Regions from separate parts of the Homo sapiens genome. Here regions 2 and 3 are each linked to region 1. Evidence: fine-mapped expression QTL. A gene starts in region 1. Each other region holds a variant in brackets. All regions are shown on one strand. Distances are from middle to middle.

Region 1 (5,000 bases):
GTGGAGGGGGGGCCACGGTAGTTCAATCGTGGGGAAGAAAATGTTGAGGAATTAGATGATAAAGCCTGTTTGCAACAGTGAATTTTTAATCGTCAAAACTGAAGGATCTCAAAGAATTTTAATATGTACTTCCCCCACCCTGCTACCGTCAGAAGGAAAAGTTGTCATCATAACTGTTTTCTAAAGACAGAGATGAAAGGAACTGCTCAATTTCACAACTTGTAATTATTAGAGGGAAAAGTACTTAATGTTGAAAATATTAAGTGAACATTGAGAAGGAATATGAGACAAAGATCAGCACATCATTTTGGCTAGGAGAGAAAAAGAGCTAAAGGGAAAGAATGGTGCCTAAGCTAATTCATTCATTTTATGTGTTTCTTTATGATAAAGTTTAAGAAATTTTTTTCTAAAATACTTTACCTTCCTGAAACCACCAGAGTTCCATCATCGAGTAAATAATCCTTCACATTCTGAGGAAGTGGAAGAATGACACTAAAAAAAAAACACCAAAAAAGGCATCATTTTAAAAGACCAACTATAAGCAGAGAGAAAAATCTCTACACTTGATTAATTTTGGAATTGTCTTTCTTTTAATATAAAGTAGAAAATGTTAATGATGTACATTTGGTAGCAGTAGACAAGAAATCAGAATAATAAGATTACTGCGGTTCATCTTATTGCCACAATGGTCTTTGTAGTAAACAAAAACCAGCCAAATCCAAACCACCAGATGGAAATCACAGTATGAAAGCAACAAGCTCAAAAGGATTCTGAGTGAGCACAACATTTATGTGTCTTTAAGAAATCAGAGACCAGCAGATATTTGCTGCAACACAGGAAATGCAGCAAACCCAACTAGAAGATGACTAGCATTTGGTCACCTTCTAAAGATAGAGGGCAGAAGTAGAGTCAAGATCTGGAAACCATTCTTGGGTTGGCAGTGAGCACCTACCGCTAAGAATTCATGATACTTTTGGATGTGTCTTGCTGGCTTTCTATTCAACTGATCACCAGAGATATAAAGCTGCTTAAACTAGGCATGCTTTAGCTTAATTTGTTTCAGGTAATCATAATTAAGGATGGCAAAGCCATACCTGAAGTCTCTTAAAAACTTATGGGATAATTTGTTTTTTACCTTGAAATAATAAATTATCAAAAAGCCCTACCACAGATCCCTAAGAGTGCTGGTATTATTTTGATTTTGAGGCATATACATCTTCAAAAAGTGGAAAAGATTACAGCCTGCTTTCCCGAAGTTAACAGAACATCAATGACTTATAACATGTCTCATTTATTTATGGAAGAAGTTTTTTTTGGCACATTACAAATGGTTTTTTTGCACAAAAAAGAGTATTCATGGGCTACTTCGGTTTTAAAAATAAGTATTTTTATTTATTTTTAAATAAATAAAAGATCACTGCCACTGCACTCCAGCTTGGGCGACAGAGCAAAAACTTCGGTTTTAAAAATAAATATTTGATTTATCAAAGGTACAATTTCACATTCAAAAATCTAGTTCTGGCCGGGCGCGGTGGCTCACACCTGTAATCCCAGCACTTTGGGAGGCCGAGGCGGGCGGATCACGAGGTCAGGCAATCGAGACCATCCTGGCTAACACGGTGAAAACCCCGCCTCTACTAAAAATACAAAAAATTAGCCGGGGGTGGTGGCGGGCGCCTGTAGTCCCAGCTACTCAGGAAGCTGAGGCAGGAGAATGGCGTGAACTCGGGAAGGGAAGCTTGCAGTGAGCCAAGATCGCTGCCACTGCACTCCAGCTTGGGCGACAGAACAAAACTCTGTCTCAAAAAAAAAAAATCTAGTTCTTCAGGCTTTTAATTTCTTCTAACAAATCTTATTACGTTTGAAAATCTACTAAATTTTAAACAATTTCAAGCGAAACTTTGCAACTTAAAAGTCTCTTTAAAATTTTAAATTCTATTCATAAACCACTCAATTTTCTTTCTTAATATGTCTATTTGCTGATTACAAATAAGCCTTCCTAAGTATTTTACTCTTACAAAGCTAACAAGCGAAATTGTTAAGTACAATGAATCTAAGGTTCTACCACACATTCCAATACTATTTAAGAACTTGAAACTTTTCTTATACATTTTAACCATTCTAAGCCAGTTACACATTTTCAAGTACATATCCGATCTTTATTGAATGAAACCATCATATAATGAATCAGCAATTACTGAAATGTTGGCTCAGAAAATCAGTTAAGTGCAAAGCCCAGATTTTCTATCAACGCCTTTAAAAAAACTGAGAGATGAAATTGTATATATTAATACTTGCCGCCTACCTGATGTTTTTAAGTATATATACACTGTGGAATAAATTTAGCTAACAAATGCATTGCCTAACATAGTTATTTTTGTGGTGAGAACACTAACATCCACTCTCCGTTTTTCAAGAATACGTATATCGTCATTAACTATAGCCTCCATGCTGTACGACATATCTGTGAACTTGTTCTCGTATCTAACTGTAATTACGTATCCTTTCACCTTCCCAATCTCCATCCTCTGGGGTGATGGCGAAAAGCAATTAATTCTCCGAGTGCACTTAGGCAGTGATCACCTTGCGCCTGGGGCCATTCTAAAAGTAGTGGTGGTGAACTCCCAAGCCTAAACTAGGTTAATCCACTATTCCTCCCGCCTCCGACCCTCACTGAAAACCACAACTGACCCTCCTAGCCAGCACACTCGCTGGCTCGCAACAGGACGCAGACAATTGCTGATGTACTTCCCTCTCGACACACTCCCTCCCATGCAGTCGCTAGAAGGCCTGCATTTTTTTGGATAGCAGTAAGATTCGCTCAGAAGTCGCAGTTCCCTTTTGCCGGTCGACCGGGCGAACCCCCTCCCATCTCACCTCTTGATGGTAACGCCTCGGAAGAACGGGTACCACGCGGAGAACTGGCAGTGAAGCACATGCTCCTTCTTCATCCTCCAGCTGCCGCCGCTGCTGCCTTTCCCTCTCCTGCCTGCACCCTCCCGGAACTCTGGGCGCCGGCCCCGGAAGTGCCCGCCGAGCTATTTTGGTTCAAGGACTCTTCCGGTCCCTAAAGCAAGAAGGAAGACCGAGAAAAGGAAGCGGAGGAGAATCCCGGGGCATACGCTTGACACACACGCATACAAAAAGAGCTTTAGTCTCGAAAGAGGAATTACCGAAGTGTCGAGAGAGGAATTTTAAGAAGTTTACAACTCCGTCTTCGCCCTAAACGCACGCTGACCCGGAAAGTAATCTCCTGAAGCTAGGTCAAAGGCGGGGGTTCTACGGATGCCGGAAGGAGGGTGCGCGCCCATCCTTTTAGCACCGCGAGAGGCGCCGGTGTTTCGAGCCGTGGCACCGGCATCGGCTGACACTGCTGCCTCCAGCTAGTTATTTCGTCCTCTTCCGTTCTTCACCCCTACACCTTGGAGTAAGTAACCGGGGCAAGCCAGTCACAGCACAAAACCTCTTTGGGGAGGAGAAGAAGAAGGGGAAAGGGACCACATCTGCATGGTGCGTGCAGCCGCGCGGTGTCTCCCAGGCTGCGGCTGGGCACGCGTCCAGGCGCCCAAGAGGGAAACTGGGGATTGGAGGGAAATTGTGGATTGGAGAGGAAGAGCCTGGGCTACTCCGAGTAAAGAAAGCGGGGAACACCACAGCTAAGTGTTAGTTCCAGTGTAAAGATTGCAGCATCTGCAGAGGAGTAGAATGCTTGGTAGAGGGAATACCGCCTGTACGATCCTGGAGGGTTCGACTTTGGGAGGTAAAAGGCGAGAGGTAAATGTGAGAAAGCAGAGGAAAGAGGAGTCTCCTTGGAGCGCTGAATTCGTTTAGTCTGGCCTCGCAAAAGTTGTCAACCTGGAAAAAACGCAGATTTTTATCAGTATTCCTGCGATGATCGAATCATAAGACTGGAAGAATTCGAATCGAACTTGTACTATCGTTTTTTCCTTTGCTTCACTCCTGTCACCCAGCAAAGTTCAGTTTTGTTTGTTTCGTTAAAAGAATGAGAAGTAACTAGCTGCTTTTATTTATTTATTTGAGACGGAGTCTCACTCTGTGCCCAGATTGGAGTGCAGTGGCGCAATCTTGGCTCACTGCAACCTCCGCCTCCTGGGTTTAAGTGATTCTCCTGCCTTAGCTTCTCGAGTAGCTGAGAGCGCGCGCGCGCCACTACGCCGGCTAATTTTTGTGTTTTTAGTAGAGACGGCGTTTCACCATATTTGCCAGGCTGGTCTCGAACTCCTAACCTTAGGTGATCTGCCCGCCTCAGCCTCCCAAAGTGCTGGGTTTACAAGGCGTGAGCCACGGCCCCGGGCCTACCAACCAGCCGCTTTTAACCCCTAGTCGTGTCGCTTACCACACGAGCTTTAGGCTTGCGCGAGGCATCTGCGTCTAAAAGTATCTCCTTAAATGTACATTCTTCCTGGTTCACCTAAGTAGTTTTAAATTAGAAACAGCCCCACCGACTGCAGGCCTCTTCAGAAGGGTGTTCCTTAGAATAATAAACAATTATCTGCGTATTTTGAGTTAGAAACTCTTCCCCCCAGGAATATATACATTGTTTTGGGTTGTGTTTTGTTTTTCTCAAAAATGTTACTGGCTAAGTGGCTAGTTGGAAGCAGTGCTTTAAAGAATACATTTTCAAAGCAGAGGTAAATAGATTATAATGTTGCAGAGTATGTTGGTGGGGATGGACAGTCATGATTCATCATTTATGCCTTGATCCGGAACTATGCAGTCCTTTCTGATTTGAGGGAAAGAAGCAATATTGTATATATGTCTGGAGGGTGGTGCCAGAAAGACTTAATGGCAGACAGGAGCAGTCGCTCAAATAATTGTTTTGATTTGACTTAGAAAGTAAAAAATTGCGCGGAAGGAGATGTTAGCATCGATGGGGGATTTATTTAGGTCAGATGTTTTCTAATGAAGATAGGAATGAATGTACGGAAGAGAATAGATCCCGGGAACATAGCCCTTCTGCGAGGAGCAGTACTTTAACA
Region 2 (5,368 bases), 63 kb before region 1:
TGGCTCATGCCTGTAATCCCAGCACTTTAGGAGGCTGAGGCGGGTAGATCACTTGAGGTCAGGAGTTTGAGACCAGCCTGACCAACATGGAAACCCCTTCTCTACTAAAAACACACACAAAAAATTAGCTGGGCGTGGTGGTGCACACCACCATGCCCGGCTAATTTTTGTATTTTTAGCAGAGATGGGTTTTCACTATGTTGGCCACACTGGTCTCAAACTCCCGACCTCAAGTGATCTGCCCGCCTCGGCCTCCCAAAGTGCTGGGATTACAGGCGTGAGCCACTGCTCCCAGCCTGTCCCATATTTTGAGCTATGCTCACCCCTGGCTTCCAGAGAGCTGAGGTCAGAAACCTTCCTGACACTCAAAGTCACTTTCAGGCTCCCCCATTATTTTCCTGAGAGTTTATTGTGACACCTCATGATCATCTAACATAGTTTGGATGTTTGTAGCTGAAGTCTCAGCTACTCAAGAGGCTGAGGTGGAAGAATCACTTGAATCCGGGAGGTGGAGGCTGCAGTGAGCCAAGATTGTGCCACTGCACTCCAGCAGCCTGGGCAACAGAGCGAGACTCTGTTTCAGACAAATAAATAAATAAAAAAGATGAGACAGAGAAGCCTCAGACAGCAGCATGAATCAGGTGAGAGACGGAGGTGGGATGTGGCTGGCGGGCTGGAGAAAAGTGAAATCAAAGGCCATGTAGTGGCCGGGTACGGTGGCTCACACCTGTAATCCCAGCACTTTGGGAGGCCCAGGCAGGAGGATCGCTTGATCCCAGGAGGTCAGGGCTTCAAGGATTCTAAGCATAATCTATTGGTTAGAATCAAGTCATAGTTTTCACCTGCACTCCAGGGAAGAGGTTATACAAGGGCTCATTGGTAGTCACCTTGAGGGTGTCTGCGACAAGTTTATTATCATACTATCATTCTAGAAAAGCTCCTATATCCCAATTCAGACTGAAATTTTAAAAATCTCTTTATAAAGAGCAGCAGTTCCATCCACCTGATCATTTTGTGCCTTTATCTTGCAGGACAGACTCAGGTTTTGGGGTGTCTAAAGCTCTCACATGTGAAATGCCCTCTTAAAACCACAGTCTGGCTGGGCACGGTGGCTCACACCTGTAATCCCAGCACTTGGGGAGGCTGAGGAGGGCAGAGTTGCCTGAGGCCAGGGGTTCGAGATCAGCTTGGCCAACATGATGAAACCCCATCTCTGCTAAAAATACAAAAACTAGCTGGCTGTGGTGGTACACACCTGTAGTCCCAGCTACTCGGGAGGCTGAGGCACAAGAATTGCTTGAACCCAGGAGGCAGAGATTGCAGTGAGCCGAGATCATGCCACTGCACTTCAGCCTGGCAACAGAGCAAGACTCTGTCTGAAAACAATAAAACAAAAAAACAAAAAACCCTAGTCTGCCAGGTATAGGTGTTCCTCTGCTGTGCTCTATGCATGGGCATGGGTTTGTGTGTTTCTAATATCCTTTGTAAAGATGCATTTGGCATTTAGCAGTGCATCAGGCTAGTATTGCCTGGGAGGGCAATTTACAGGGGTTTCTGATCCTGTTAACGAATGGCATCTGCTAGCTCAGAGCTCATAAGGATGATTTCGATTACTTTCCCTAAACTTATAATTTTAATTTTCCTACACCTTTACTTCATGTGTTAGTTTGCTGGGGCTGTCATAACCAAATACAACAGACAGGGTTTTAAGGGTGGCTTAAACAACATGATTTATTGTCTCACAGTTCTGGAGGCTGGAAGTCCAAGATCAGGGTGTCGGCAGGGTGCATTTCTGAGGTCTCTCTCCACAGTGTGCAGATGGCCACCCTCTTGCTGTGTCCTGGATGTGGCCTTTCCTCTGCGCTTGGGCATCCCTGGTGTCTTTGTGTCCAGATTTCCTCTTCT[G/T]ATAAGAACACCCTCATATTGGATTAGGACCCACTTCGAAGGCCTCATTTTAGCTTCATCACCTCTGTAAAGGGCCTGTCTCCAAACACAGTCAGATTCTCAGGTATGAAGGTTATAGGACTTCAACATATGAACTTTGTGGGGACAATTTCCTCTCTCCTGCCCGCTCGCAGTGACTTGGAATACTCTTGAGGGTGTCTCCATCTATTTTGTATTATATTTCATTATCTGGAAAAGCTTATTAATCTAAGCATTTTGTTCCTGCCTCAGGAGCTTGTCATATAAACAAACACCTAGACAACTAGCAATTAATACAATAAAGCAGGTAACGAGCTGCTGGTTTGATAATGTGGACTGTAGCTCTCTAGAAGCTCAAAGAAGGAGGACAAAGGTATAGTGGCTACATTGATCTGGGAGGGCCTTAGGAGCAGGAGGGGTTAACAGATGCTCACATAAGGCCTAATATTTAAATAGGGGTTCTAAACCTTAGCAGTACATTAGAATTATTTGGGGGATGTTTAAAACTACTGGGCCTTGGCTGGACGCGGTGGCTCACGCCTGTAATTCCAGCACTTTGGGAGGCCAAGGCAGGCGGATCACCTGAGGTCACGAGTTGGAGACCAGTCTGACCAACATGGGGAAACCCCGTCTCTACTGAAAAATACAAAATTTAGCCGGGTATGGTGGCACATGTCTGTAATCCCAGCTACTCAGGAGGCTGAGGCAGGAGAATTGCTTGAACCCGGGAGGCAGAGGTTGTGAAGAGCCGAGATTGCACCATTGCACTCTAGCCTGGGAAACAAGAGTGAAACTCTGTCTCAAAACAAACAAACAAACATAAACAACAAACTACTGGGCCCAGCTGGTGGCTCATGCCTGTAATCCCAGCACTTTGGGAGGCCGAGGCAGGCAGATCACCTGAGGTCAGGAGTTTGAGACCAGCCTGGCCAACCACTGCCAACATGGTGAAACTCCATCTCTACTAAAAATACAAAAATTAGCCGGGTGTGGTGGCAGGCACCCATAATCCCAGATACTCAGGAGGCTGAGGCAGGAGAATCACTTGAACCCGGGAGGCAGAGGTTGCAGTGAGCAGAGATCATACCACTATGCTCCAGCCTGGGCAACAGAGGGGAGACTCCCTCTCAAAAGCAAAAGACAAAAACAAAAACAAGAACAAACTACTGGGCCCCAGAGATTTCAGTTTAATTGGTCTGGATGAGTATTCTCCATTGATTAAGAAAAAAATACTCTCCAGGTAATTAGAATACACAACTAGGGGCCGGGTGCAGTGGCTCATGCCTGTAATCTCAGCACTTTGAGAGGCCAAGGTGGGAGGATCCTTAGGTCAGGAGTTTGAGACCAGCCTGGGCAACATAGCAAGACCCCCCCCCCACCCCACCCAATGCACATACCTGTTTCTATGTGGAAAAAAAAAAAAAAGAAAGAAAAAGAAAAAGAGTATATGGCCGGGTGCTGTGGCTCAAGCCTGTAATCCCAGCACTTTGGGAGGCCAAGGCAGGTGGATAACGAGGTCAGGAGATCGAGACCATCCTGGCTAACACAGTGAAACCCCGTCTCTACTAAAAATACAAAAAATTAGCCGGGTGTGGTGGCGGGCGCCTGTAGTCCCAGCTACTTGGGAGGCTGAGGCAGGAGAATGACGTGAACCTGGGAGGCGGAGCTTGCAGTGAGCCAAGATCGCGCTACTGCACTCCAGCCTGGGAGACAGAGCAAGACTCCGTCTAAAAAAAAAAAAAGAAAAGAAAAAGAATATACGACTAAGACTGAGAATCTCTGGCCTAAATGAACAGATGAGCTTAAGGAGGGCATTCATATTCCAGGTGAGCAGGAAGCTTCGAGGGGAGGCAGCAAGCAGGAATGCCGCGGATATTGAAAGAACATGGAGAAGGCAGACTTGCTGGGAGCTGAGGATGTTTTAAGGGTCGTGGAAAATAAGTTTACACAGATCAGAGTGAAATTACATGGGGTATATGGAATCTATATCAAACAAGAAAGGCAGGAGGAAGATAGAAGCAGGTTTGCAAGCCCAACTGGTTGGTTATTACAGACAGACAGATGTGAGGTCCTGAGGGTACTGGATGGAGATGCAGAAAGGATCATAGAGAACACTGGGAAGGGTCCCGGCGTTGTGGATCATGCTTGTAATCCCAGCACTTTGGGAAGCTGAGGCAGGAGGATCTGCTGGAGCTCAGGAGTTCAAGACCAGCCTGGGCAACATGGCAAGACCTTGTTTCTGCTAAAAATAAAAATAAATTAGCCAGGCGTGGTGGTGTATTCCCGTAGTCCCAGCTATTCAGGAGGCTGAGGTGGGAAGATAGCTTGAGCCTCGGAAATTGAGGCTGCAATGAGTCATAATCATGCCACTGCACTCTAGCCTGGGAGACAAAAAAATAATTTTAATTTTTTTTTTTTTGAGATGGAGTTCCACTCTTGTTGCCCAGGCTAGAGTGCAATGGTGCAATCTCGGCTCACTGCAACCTCTGCCTCCCAGGTTCAAGCAATTCTCCTGCCTCAGCCTTCCGAGTAGCTGGGATTACAGGCACCCGCTGCCACACATGGCTAATTTTTGTATTTTTAGTAGAAATGGGGTTTCACCATGATGGCCAGGCTGGTCTCAAACTCCTGACCTCAGGTGATCCACCCGCCTTGGCCTCCCAAAGTGCTGGAATTACAAGCGTGAGCCATGGCACCCAGCCGGATACTGAATCTTGAGCCCAGTGTCATCAGGACAGAAGGCAGAATCTCTCTAGTAGCTAAGTCCTGGGATAGTGTCTTTTGCGTCTCCAAAGTTTTCCCAGTCTCCGTTCTCTCTGTGGAGCTTACACACTTTGCGCCAATTTCCTGAGGCACCTCACATCCTTCCAGTACATGCTTTCATTAACTAGAGTTAGTTTCTGTTGTTTGCAACCAAAACTGCTTAACTGATTGACCATACTTCTTCCCATTATTCGAGTTTTGGGGGAGCATTATTTTGCATTCAAAATCCAGAAGTGAGCAAATCATACCCTGGGATCTTTGTCTCTCCTTTCTTAAGACTCATTCGGGCCTAGCGCGGTGGTTTATGCCTATAATCTCAGCACTTTGGGAGGCGAAACCCCGTTTCTACTAAAAATACGAAAATTAGCCGGGCGTGGTGGCGGGTGCCTGTAATCTCAGCTACCAGGGAGGCTGAGATGGGAGACTTGCTTGAACCTGGGAGGCGGAGATTGCAGTGAGCCAAGATTGTGCCATTTCACCCCAGCCTGGGCTACGAGAGCAAGACTCCATCCCCCCTTCCCCCCTGCTGGCCAGAAAAAAAGATTGATTTGGACATTCTCATTTTGATTTCAAAAAAGACAAGTCTGTGGCCACCAAGGGTGATGAGAGGTGGCCATATGATGTCCTTTTCACTCCTCATACCTATAAACTCATTGAGAGGTACCAGTGACCTTTCTGCACG
Region 3 (5,000 bases), 46 kb before region 1:
ATGCGCCAGTATGCTTGGCTAATTTTTGCATTTTTACTAGAGACAGGGTCTTACCATGTTGGCCAGGCTGGTCTCGAACTCCTAACCTCAAATGTCCTCCCACCTTGGCCTCCCCATGAGCCACCGTGCCCAGCCTGAAGATGCTGTTTTCTTTCTATGTGAATGTGGTAAGTGTTCCGTCTGTACAATAGAGCTTGACAGCATATGAAGGGGACGTAAAAAAAAAAAAAAAAGAAAAAAGAAAAAAAAAAAACCACCCCAACCTCTGAAAGAAATGTCTACCTTGTCCTGTTCTGAAACCACAGGTGGGCAATTTGGTGACTCTCCTCAGGGAAAGGTCACCTTTGAGCTGGGGGCACTGTGCTGAGGTAGGGCTGGGGCCTCTGAGCAGAAAACAGCCAGTGCTGACACGCACAGAGCGGGGGCACAGGGGCTGCGCCGCCAGGAATGACGGCCACGGCATCCGATCACGAACACCTATTGACACGAAGTGGATGGATGTTTCCTCGAAAGGTTTATCTTTGCTCCTTTTCACTTTTCTCACTGAAACATTCATATATTTGTGCCATCTGGTTAATAATGAATTTGTTTTTTTCTATAAATGTGTTGCCGCCATGTCCTGAGCGGGTGTGTGTCTGTGAAATTCCAAGCAACAAGACCGCTGAGCCAGCATGCCTAATATCTGGCACTGTTTCTCAGCTGAGCGAGAGCAAACTGTTAAGAAAGATGCAACATCTAATTAGGACTTGCTTCAAATACCAGAACCTCCAGTTAAGTGGCACAGGCCTGTCGCAGGATGTTTTCGCAGGATGTTTTCAGCACAACCCATTTAGGTAAGTTCCTCATTTTATACAAGCCCCAGGAGAGGCCCTGCAAATTTCTCACCGCTTGAGTTGTTTCCTCACCTCCATTTGGCACCCACTTCTTCATTCCTGGAACTATGTGAAACAGTATCAGCCGTCAAACAACTTCTTGGTAATGATGTCAACTTTATTTTGGAGAATACTGCTAAGATGTCTTCAATATATGTCATGATACAAAATGGACATTTTCTAACCTCCAAATCTTTTCTACTTGACTTTCTTTTTTTTTTTTTTTGAGATGGAGTCTCGCTCTGTCACTCAGGCTGGAGTGCAGTGGTGCGATCTCTGCTCACTACAACCTCCGCCTCCCGAGTTCAAGTGATTCTCCTGCCTCAGCCTCCCAAGTAGCTGGGACTACAGGCGTCCGCCATCACGCCCAGCTAATTTTTTGTATTTTTAGTAGAGACAGGGTTTCACTGTGTCAGGATGGTCTCGATCTCCTGACCTCGTGATCTGCCTGCCTCAGCCTCCCAAAGTGTTGGGATTACAGGCGTGACCCTCTGTGCCCAGCCTCTACTTGGCTTTTTATAGTCAGTAAAACTAACTCATTTTTTTTTAAACAATCACACTTTTAATATAGGAATATGCCACAATGCAAAAAACCAAACCACATTTTTTCCTTTTTTTTTTTTCACTCTTGTTGCCCAGGCAGGAGTGCAATGGTGAGATCTCGGCTCACTGCAACTTCCCCTTCCTGGGTTCATGCAATTCTCCTGCCTCCACCTCCTAAGTAGCTGGGACTACAGGTATGCACCACCACGCCTGGCTAATTTTCTATTTTTGGTAGAGATGGGGTGTCACCATGTTGGTCAGGCTGGTCTCCAATTCTTAAACTCAGGTGATCTGCCCGCCTAGGCCTCCCAAAGTGCTGAGATTACAGGCGTGAGCCACTGTACCCAGCCCAAAACACATTTTTAAATGAAAACAAACCACCACTGTTAATTGGTAGTGTACTCTGTAGCTCAGAAGCTATCCTCTAGTACAAAAAAAAAGAGTTTAAGTAAATTAAAAAAAACCCAGCTGTAACTTCTATAAACTAGGAGGATCAGGATCAGGATTTTATAACTTTTTTTTTTTGAGACAGAGTCTCGCCCTGTTGCCCAGGCTGGAGTACAGTCGCGCGATCTCAGCTCATTGCAACCTCCTCCTCCTGGGCTCAAGTGGTTCTCCTGCCTCAGCCTCCCAAGTAGCTGGGATTACAGGCGCCTGCCACTGTGCCTGACTAACTTTTGTATTTTTAGTAGAGACGGGGTTTCACCATGTTGGCCAGGCTGGTCTTGAGCTCCTGATCTCAGGTGACCTGCCTGCCTCAGCCTCCTAAAGTGCTGAGATTACAGGTGTGAGCCACCACGCCCGGCCATAACATGTTTTCATGTGACATCTCAAGCACAAACAGCCTGAGAAGTTAATTCTGCTTTGAGGCAATCCAATAAGCAAAGAGCAGTCGGACTAACTGTCCTTGTACCAGCTGACTGTCTCCCTGCCCCGATCAAGCTCTAGGGACCAGACACTGTGTTAGGCACTGGGCATGAAGATCGTAACACAAAATCGACTCCTTCCAAGAGCTCAGGCTTGAGCAGAACACACATCTCCACTTCCCCAAAACAGAACCAAAAGCCATCCAACAATGGCAATGTGCAGGGTATTTTGCTTCAAGAGAGGCAAGAACAGGGAACTGTGAGAGCGGAGAGGCACACAGGAGAGCCTGCCTACATGTGCGAGGGAAGGCTGGAAATGCTTCCCAAAGGACCTGGGCACCTGAGGGATAACAGAGATGCCCTGGGAGGAGGGTGGTGTTGGCAGGAAAAGCGGACCACTTAACAAGAACGACGGCTCTCACGTACAGAGGCCACGCCACGACCGCCTGTTGCGGGAATAGGTTATTTTGGCTGGAGTGTGAGATATGTGAGGGCTCCTGAAATACAGCCAGCTATGTAACTCTCAAGGCTTGCTGTTCCAAACAGGATGAAACACATGCTACGACAAGCCGTTTAAAAGTGTAATTGAGATTATGAGAAAGACCGGGAAATCCCCCGGGGCCAGAAACAAGAA[C/GAAC]CCGAAGAACAGAACTAAGCCTATCAACTCTAGTGCTGTGGGAACCCGTGGGAGGGTCTCCTAGCAGCCTGGCCACAGGAAGGGAATCAGAACTCAGACACAAACTCCAGAAGGCGACAGTCTCAGGAAAGGGAGTGTGAGGAGACAGTTCTAATGACAGGGCAGGACACAATGACTGTTCTTCTCTGAATGAGTTTTGAGGAACATGGTAGAAGCAAATGAAAAACCCAAAATTTTGGATCTTTGGGATTCTCACAAACAAAAGAACAAACAAAAAGAACAAGCTCACTGAAGATGAACTCAAAGTAAATAAATAAACTGATTTACAAAACAAAAAAGAAACAACCAACCCGGATGAGAGTCTGTAAACGCAACAGGCATTAAAGCCCCAAGAACTCTGGAAATCATCATCAATCTGAAGGACAGTATAAAATAAATATATTGATGCTAGACAAAAAGACTAAGGGGGATCCATATCGCATACCAAACACGCAAAGGAACAAAAGCCAAACATCCAATATTGAAATGGAGAACAAGAAGTTACAAAAGAACTGGACAAAAACCATGGGGAAGTATTTTTTAAAATGATGGCTGAAATTCAAAAGCCAGAAAAGAAACAAATAATCTATGTGATCTCGTTCACAGGAAAAGACTAATGACAAAGGCCTAATCTCTGTAATACATAAACAGTGCCTCTATTTTGAGGAAAATGAGACAATAGAAAAAAGTGAAAAAGACATGAAGCAATGGTTCACAGAAACGACCCTTAAATATATGAAAAGATAAACTTCATCCTCACTTACTAAGAAAAATAGAAGTAGAAATTATACTGAAACATCATTTCTCTACGAAACCCCAAAAACCCTGAAGAGTGTAACCCTATATTGTAAAGGCAAGCTCTGAGGAAGCCTGCAGGTACTGTGATGCATTCCTGGGGGGATCTGGTCAGGTGTAACCTCTACCGAGGGTAAACTGCAACATTAAAATACATTTCACTTTTGAGCCAGCAATCCCGCTTCTAGGAATTCACCCTGTAGATTCACCTGCAGCGTGTGAAATGACACACGTACGGGATTATTCACCATGGCAGACTGCAGAAGACCAGACACAACCTGGTGTTCACTGCTAGGCATGACATGTATGATCATGGCTCACTGCAGCCTCAACCTCCCAGTCTCAAGCGATCCTCCCAACTCAGCTCCCGGGAGTAGCTGGGGCTACAGGCACAAACCACCACACCTGGCTAATTTTTATGTAGAGACGAGGTCTCATTATGTTAAGCCCAGGCTGATCTCAAACTCCTGGGCTCAAGCCATCCTCCCACCTCAGCCTCCCAAAATGCTGAAAATACAGGCGTGAGCCACAACAATGGCCTAAAGCCCCTCTTTCTAGTAACTCTTAACAGACACCATCATCTTTGAAGACAAAGAGGTGAAAATATAGTGATGTCTTTTGACGTAAGAGTTAAATGAACAGTTAACAGTTATTCTGGGACATGATCATATGGGCCATATCTTTTTGTCCAAAGATGATTCGAAGATGTCCAAAGGTGATTCAGATTCAAATGACTGTCTCACTTACAATGAGGCTGATCTAAGCACGGAGAGAGAATGAGAAATATTCTGCTTGTGTGTAGGTGACACGGGAAAACGCATCTGCTAGCTTCTTCACAATGTCAAAGAGCACTCAGCACCAAACAGCATTTAGTGACCTAAACTTCTTAATAAAGATGACATGTCTTGGACAGTGAAATCTCTGCTCTAGTAATTCTTCATTAAGTCAGCAGTAAGTAACTTTACTAGTAAGTCACTTTAACTTTTTCCTTACAGAAGTTTTCATCACTTTTAAGATTTAAAAAATAAACTAATCCTCTTCTGTCTAAAGATAAAAGTAACTCAAACTTTGAGTCACTTTTAGTTGACTAAAAATAATAATAATAATTTTTTTTTTTTTTTTTTTGAGACGGAGTCTCGCTCTGTAGCCCAGGCTGGAGTGCAGTGGCGCGATCTCGGCTCACTGCAAGCTCCGCCTCCCGGGTTCACGCCATTCTCCCGCCTCAGCCTCCAGAGTAGCTGGGACTACAAG

Which allele goes with the higher level. Alleles are on the strand shown, and positions count from the first base shown. SD is a standard deviation of normalised expression in the study named. Not every link is listed here.
For the expression in sun-exposed skin of the gene that starts at base 3,009 in region 1, allele C in region 3 goes with a lower level than allele GAAC (small effect, 0.21 SD a copy in GTEx).

Evidence for each region. PIP is the estimated chance that this variant, and not a neighbour inherited with it, causes the effect.
Region 2: its variant is the best candidate, but not a certain one, in a credible set for the expression of CDC123 in whole blood (INTERVAL, PIP 0.50).
Region 3: its variant is the best candidate, but not a certain one, in a credible set for the expression of CDC123 in sun-exposed skin (GTEx, PIP 0.75).

What each region holds. Positions count from the first base shown.
Region 1 is chr10:12,194,197-12,199,196 of GRCh38, reverse strand. CDC123 (cell division cycle 123) reads right to left here and starts at 3,009. Exons shown (of 13, transcript NM_006023.3): 1 at 2,878-3,009; 2 at 421-492. The coding sequence starts at 2,951. NUDT5 (nudix hydrolase 5) reads left to right here and starts at 3,306. Exons shown (of 10, transcript NM_014142.4): 1 at 3,306-3,427. RefSeq lists an enhancer at 2,993-3,262.
Region 2 is chr10:12,256,599-12,261,966 of GRCh38, reverse strand. No RefSeq gene overlaps it. Among named protein-coding and RNA genes, the nearest start is that of CDC123, 63 kb to the right of the region's middle. The variant G/T (reference allele first, on the strand shown) is at 1,906.
Region 3 is chr10:12,239,882-12,244,881 of GRCh38, reverse strand. All of the region lies in intron 10 of CDC123 (cell division cycle 123), which reads right to left. Among named protein-coding and RNA genes, the nearest start is that of CDC123, 46 kb to the right of the region's middle. The variant C/GAAC (reference allele first, on the strand shown) is at 2,916.